Homo sapiens: one gene and its partner. The protein of the gene in region 2 interacts with the protein of the main gene of each other region in a pairwise test. Each region holds a gene or a part of one and is shown on either strand. Other genes may lie near its edges.

Region 1 (2,789 bases), on a different chromosome or scaffold from region 2:
GGCTGAGGCGGGTGGATCATGAGGTCAGGAGTTCGAGAGGAGCCTGGCCAACATAGTGAAACCCTGTCTCTACTACAAATACAAAAATTAGCTGGGTGTGGTGGCACACACCTGTAGTCCCAGCTATTCGGGAGGCTGACGCGGGAGAATCACTTGAACCCAGGAGGCAGAGTTTCCAGTGAGCCGAGACCATGCCACTGCACTCCAGCCTGGGTGACAGAGTGAGACTCTGTCTCAAAAAAAAAAAAAAAGTTGAGCTTTGAGCTTTCCAGCTGTGCCTATGTACGCTTTATTCCCAAGAAGGACTAGTTGTTTCTCTTGCTTAAAAAAATCTCTTCATTCTCTATATTACTATGACACTGTGTGGCATATATTTTTCTTTTTTTATTGTGGTAAAGTATATATAACATAAAGTTTACAATTTTAACCATTTTTAGGGGCACAATTCAGTGGCATTTATTCAAAATGTTGTGCAACCATCACCACCATCCATCTTCAGAACCTTTTCATCATTCCAGACGGAAACTCCATACCCATGAAACAATAACTCCCCATTCCCTTTTCCTCCAGCCCCTGACAACCACCACACTACTTTCTCTCTGAATTTCCCTATTCTTGGTATCGAATATAAGTAGAGTCATACAGTATTTGTCCTTTTGTGTCTGGCTTATTTCACTTAGCCTAATGTTCTCAAGGTTCATCCATGTTATAGCATGTATTGGAATTCCATTCCTTTTTAAGGCTGAATAATATCCCACTGTGTGTGTGTGTGTGTGTGTGTGTGTGTGTGTGTGTGTGTGTGTACACCACGTTTTATACATTCATGCACTGATGGACATTTGGGTTGCTTTCACCTTTTGGCTATTGTGAATGCTGCTGCCATGAACATTGGTATACAATGTGTGTCATATTTGAGGCTTAGCAAATGCTGCCAGGCCCTGTTTGCTTCTTCTCCTGCATGTGTGTCTTATTTCCCCAGCTAGAAGATAAGGTCCATAAGCTAGGTGTGGGTCTTACACTTCTTGGTGTTTTTCATCCTTTATTCTGTTTCTCCCAGTATCGTGCAGAAATATAAATACTTGGTGCTGATAATTACGCTAAAATTAAAAAATAAGGAAACTGTTTAGAAGTACATAGTATTTTAAAGAAGTACTTTATGTCCATATTTACATGGGGAGAGTATTTGACTTGTTTTTCCAATTTCTAAAAGTGATAGTATATTAATATGCTATCACTTTTCAAGTGTTTAATAATTTTCAAATGTTTAATAATAGAGTAACAGCCAAGAAGTATGTATGGGTCATGAGTCAGGAACATTTAAATAGATCTAGCTGATTATAAAGTAAATCTATAGAAGCCTTTTTGTTGCTGTTTTTCTCTTTTGAATCAAGGACATGAGTTCAAATACCACATTAACTCAAGAGGTAAAAGCTGTGTCCCCCATCCTAAGAAGTTGTAGGAGAGAATATGTCAAATTTCTCTTACAAAAATAGAGTCATTCTACAGTAGAGTCTTTCTATAGAGTCATTATATAAAGTGAAGATGGCTTCATATGTATGTGACGCAAATGAACCTCTCATTGGAAACCTTATATTTTATATTAAAAAAGAAGCAGTTTAATTAAAATGCAAATTTGGGATAAGTATGAATTCCTATCAGATGTATGTTGACACTTGCACTGAGGTAATTGAAGAGTGTTTTAAAGTGTATTTACTTATGTTTGCCACATATTTATTGCTTTGTTAAAGGCCAAAGTTTTGGTTTTTGGTTACATCTGAGATACATCCTGTATTAGAAGAATGTTTCTAAGTAGGCCTTTAAGGCTTTTAAAATAAATAACAAGTGTAGGAGAAGATGGTTTCTAGAAGGTGCTTTGATGAAATTTCACAAAGTTTTGTTTTTTGGTTACACTTAAGATACACCTGTATTAGAAGAATGTTCATAAGTAGGCCCTTAAGGCTTTTAAAATGACAAGTGTAGGAGAAGATTGTTTCTAGAGGGTGCTTTGATGAAATTTCACCGGCTGGCTATCTGTATATAATCAGGTGTGCCCACAGAGAAGGCAACAATGAAGCTATTCAGGCAGGGCAGCAGAAAACACAGGCAAAGCAATTGTTTACAACTCAACAACTGGGTCATTAGGAATTTTCATCTTTCGATCAGCTACCCTGGCTTTGAGTAGCCACAGCCAGCGCGTGTTTCAAAAAAGGACAAAACTCTATTTGCAAATAGCTTGCTACTAAAAAATATGTTTCTTTATTATAAAGTCCTGTTGGAATTTACTACTGCAAAGCAAACCACTCTGACTTACTCTTTTCTGTGTGCTTAGCCCTGCAATATTACCAGCTGTTAAGTAAAAATGTTCTTAGGTCAAGATGTTAAATTTGCAACTGGTTTACTTTATCGCAAGTCTCTGCTTTATTTGGGAAGCCTTTTTTTCCCTCCTTCTTCTTTTCATATAATATAAAAAGGTATCTTCAAATTTCACTGGCTTTAAAAAAAGGTATCTTCAAGTCCTTTCCATGAACTGTACCAGCAAAACAGTTCATGCACAGGTATCTGCCTCGTGCCACCCGTGGCGGTGGAGTGTGATGCGTTGTTTCATTGATGGATAATAATGCCCCCGTGCAATTTAACAAACCCTTTCTAGCCACTTCCTTTTTTCCTCTCCAGCAACTTATCCTGCCATCCGGAATTCATAGCTGGTTTCGTTTGCTTTCTAGTACAAGTTATTGGCAACCAAGTTTGCCAATGCCTCAAGTGGCTTCTTATGAAAGATTTCAATGGAT
Region 2 (3,027 bases):
ATCCTGACTAATATGGTGAAACCCAGTCTTTACTAAAAATACAAAAAAAAAATTAGTCAGGTGTGGTCGTGGGTGCCTGCAGTCCCAGCTACTTGGGAGGCTGAGGCAGGAGTATGGCGTGAACCTGGGAGGCAGAGCTTGCAGTGAGCCAAGATCACGCCACTGCACTCCAGCCTGGGCAACAAGCAAGACTCTGTCTCAAAAAAAAAAATTAACACAACCTAGAACAAAACAAAACATATTTTACCATTTAATTTTTAAATTCTTCATTAGGCATTAGAGTGTAATACACAAAATACAATAGGATGCAAATATAGAAAGAAACACGTTTTCCACATTATTTACAAGCTCCCAGAACTTACCTCTATATTTAATTGGTAGCAATGATGGATTACACACAAAATTATGCAATTTCCAAGAGGAATAAAGTAGATGGCAGTACATTTTTCAAAGTGTCATAACTCCTAGATATTTTTTCCCGAGCCCGGTTCCACTACTAAATCCAAAAAATAAAATAAAATAAACCAAAAAACACATTTCCTAGTCTCTTTACAGCAAATAACAAGACTCTTTCATGAGAAGTACTACAGCTTGAAAGTTCTCTTTAATCATGTTTGAGTGGTATTGATATCCATGAATCAAGCCTTTTACTCCACCTATTCAATAAACATTTATTGAATCAGATTCAGTAAACATTTATTAAGGTTCTACCACAAACTAAGGACTCTGCTGGATACCTTCCTAAATACTATGTCAGTTTGGTTCCCAAGAACAGATTTCTGGTCTGGAACAGGAATAATAGTCACACATTCCAAATTGGTTGAAATCAAAGGAACTATAATCGGTAATTCAATAAGACATTGGAACAAAAAAAGGTGAAATCTGCGAATTATGTATGACCAAAGGTATTCCTTCAGTTCAGTAGATATCCAGATATCCAAAATTCAATAAAATTTAGTCTATATATCTAGGAGGAAAAAATAATAGTTAAATATAACAGCACAATTATTACTCTTAGCCTTAGAGGTATGGATAGATTGTCACGTGGAATAACTATTATGTAAAATGAGAGCATTCATTTGGACTAAAATGGAAGTACTCTTTGAACATGGGAAACCACAAACATATTCCAAAGAGCAAAGGACTGATATGAGGAGTCCAGAAGAAACTATAAAACAGTAATTTCTAAACTATTGCTCATAATGTGTCACAAGTATTTCAACATAAGCCAATCAGAGATCCACGGAGTAACAAATTTAAACAAAAACAAAGAAAATATGTTAACAATTTTGTAAACAGCAGCTGGTTCAGATATATAAAAGGACCAACGTGGAAGTCACCACCAAACCTCAGAAACTCCTCCAAGCAACCTAACTCTTAACCCAACTTCTGACACCATGACCTGCTGCCAGACCAGCTTCTGTGGATATCCCAGCTTCTCCATCAGTGGGACCTGTGGCTCCAGCTGCTGCCAGCCAAGCTGCTGTGAGACCAGCTGCTGCCAGCCACGCAGCTGCCAGACTAGCTTCTGCGGATTTCCCAGCTTCTCAACCAGTGGGACCTGCAGCTCCAGTTGCTGCCAGCCAAGCTGCTGTGAGACCAGCTGCTGCCAGCCAAGCTGCTGTGAGACCAGCTGCTGCCAGCCAAGCTGCTGCCAGATCAGCTCCTGCGGAACTGGCTGTGGCATTGGTGGTGGCATCAGCTATGGCCAGGAGGGCAGCAGTGGAGCTGTGAGCACCCGTATCAGGTGGTGCCGCCCAGACAGTCGTGTGGAGGGCACCTACCTACCCCCCTGCTGTGTGGTGAGCTGCACGCCCCCATCCTGCTGCCAACTGCACCATGCCCAGGCCTCCTGCTGCCGCCCGTCCTACTGTGGACAGTCCTGCTGCCGCCCAGTCTGCTGCTGTGAGCCCACTTGCTGAAAGCCAGTTTGCTTATTTTCAATTGCCTAGGTCACAGTGTCTCTGAACTGTTCATCCCTTGACCACCTCTGGACCACTAACAAGTTCTCAGACTTTGCATTGCTTGTGATGGAGACTACTAAGTATATGAGCTCACAATTCTATCTGATTCCATTCTACAATGAATACCTTGACCCTTCACTGGGGACACAGAAATGCTACAAAGCCACCTGCTGATCATCAATTTGCTTGGGATATACTATTTCTGATATTTCTGCAGGATTAAAAATTACTGACATGTTGTGGAATTTATCCATGAGAACTATCCACAAGTCTAATGTTTCCATGCTTTATAATCTATTTTATCTTGTTTACCTAAAATTTTTTGCAACATCAAAGACACCAAATTATAGCCAAGTGACATTCCTCAAGTCACCAGAGAGAATGGAAGCTCATCACCCAACATTCAGCTTCTAAGAAGTAGGCTGGACTTTCCACATTTTAACATCTGATCCATCCCTTGGTTTTTGGATCATAATGATCTTGCCTGCTGGATATTTCAGTTATATCTGTGATACAATGTCTTCTGTCATTTCTTAATAAATATTATATACTAGGCAAAGAAACCATTGTCTTTGTTTTCACTTGTACATCACCTGGTTTAACTGCTTATAATTCAAGAATGTCTACTTGAGGCCAAGAGCAGTGGTTCACACCTGTAATCCTAGCATTTTGGGAGGCTGAGGTGAGTGGATTACCTGAGCTCACGAGTTTGAGACCAGCCTGGGCAACATGGTGAAACCCTGTCTCTACTAAAAATACAAAAAAAAAAAAAAAAAATTAGCTGGGCGTGGTAGTGCACACCTGTAGTCCCAGCTACTTGGGAGGCTGAGGAAGGAGAATCGCTTGAACCCAGGAGGCAGAGGTTTCAGTGAGCTAAGATCATGCTACTGCACTCCATTACACTATGCAATAAACTGCAGCAAGCTCTCAAAATGGCAATTTCCTATATATGACACCAAAGAAGACATAAAGTGCATTAAAAAGTTAAGTAATGGTAAAAAGACACATATTTCCAAGTCGAAAGCAAATGTGGGAGCTTTTCTTTTATTGAGGATCATTGGCC

Evidence for each region. Proteins that work in one complex are often made in the same cells at the same time.
Region 1: the proteins of KRTAP1-5 (region 2) and DMRT3 interact in binary tests that used the Homo sapiens proteins (3 or more experiments, as listed by UniProt).

Annotation. Positions count from the first base shown.
Region 1 is NC_000009.12:986,655-989,443, forward strand, and holds part of DMRT3 (doublesex- and mab-3-related transcription factor 3), read left to right. Parts: intron 1-2,789. UniProt on the Homo sapiens protein: Probable transcription factor that plays a role in configuring the spinal circuits controlling stride in vertebrates.
Region 2 is NC_000017.11:41,025,526-41,028,552, reverse strand, and holds KRTAP1-5 (keratin-associated protein 1-5), read left to right. Parts: upstream 1-1,344; 5' UTR 1,345-1,397; coding exon 1,398-1,922; 3' UTR 1,923-2,527; downstream 2,528-3,027. UniProt on the Homo sapiens protein: In the hair cortex, hair keratin intermediate filaments are embedded in an interfilamentous matrix, consisting of hair keratin-associated proteins (KRTAP), which are essential for the formation of a rigid and resistant hair shaft through their extensive disulfide bond cross-linking with abundant cysteine residues of hair keratins.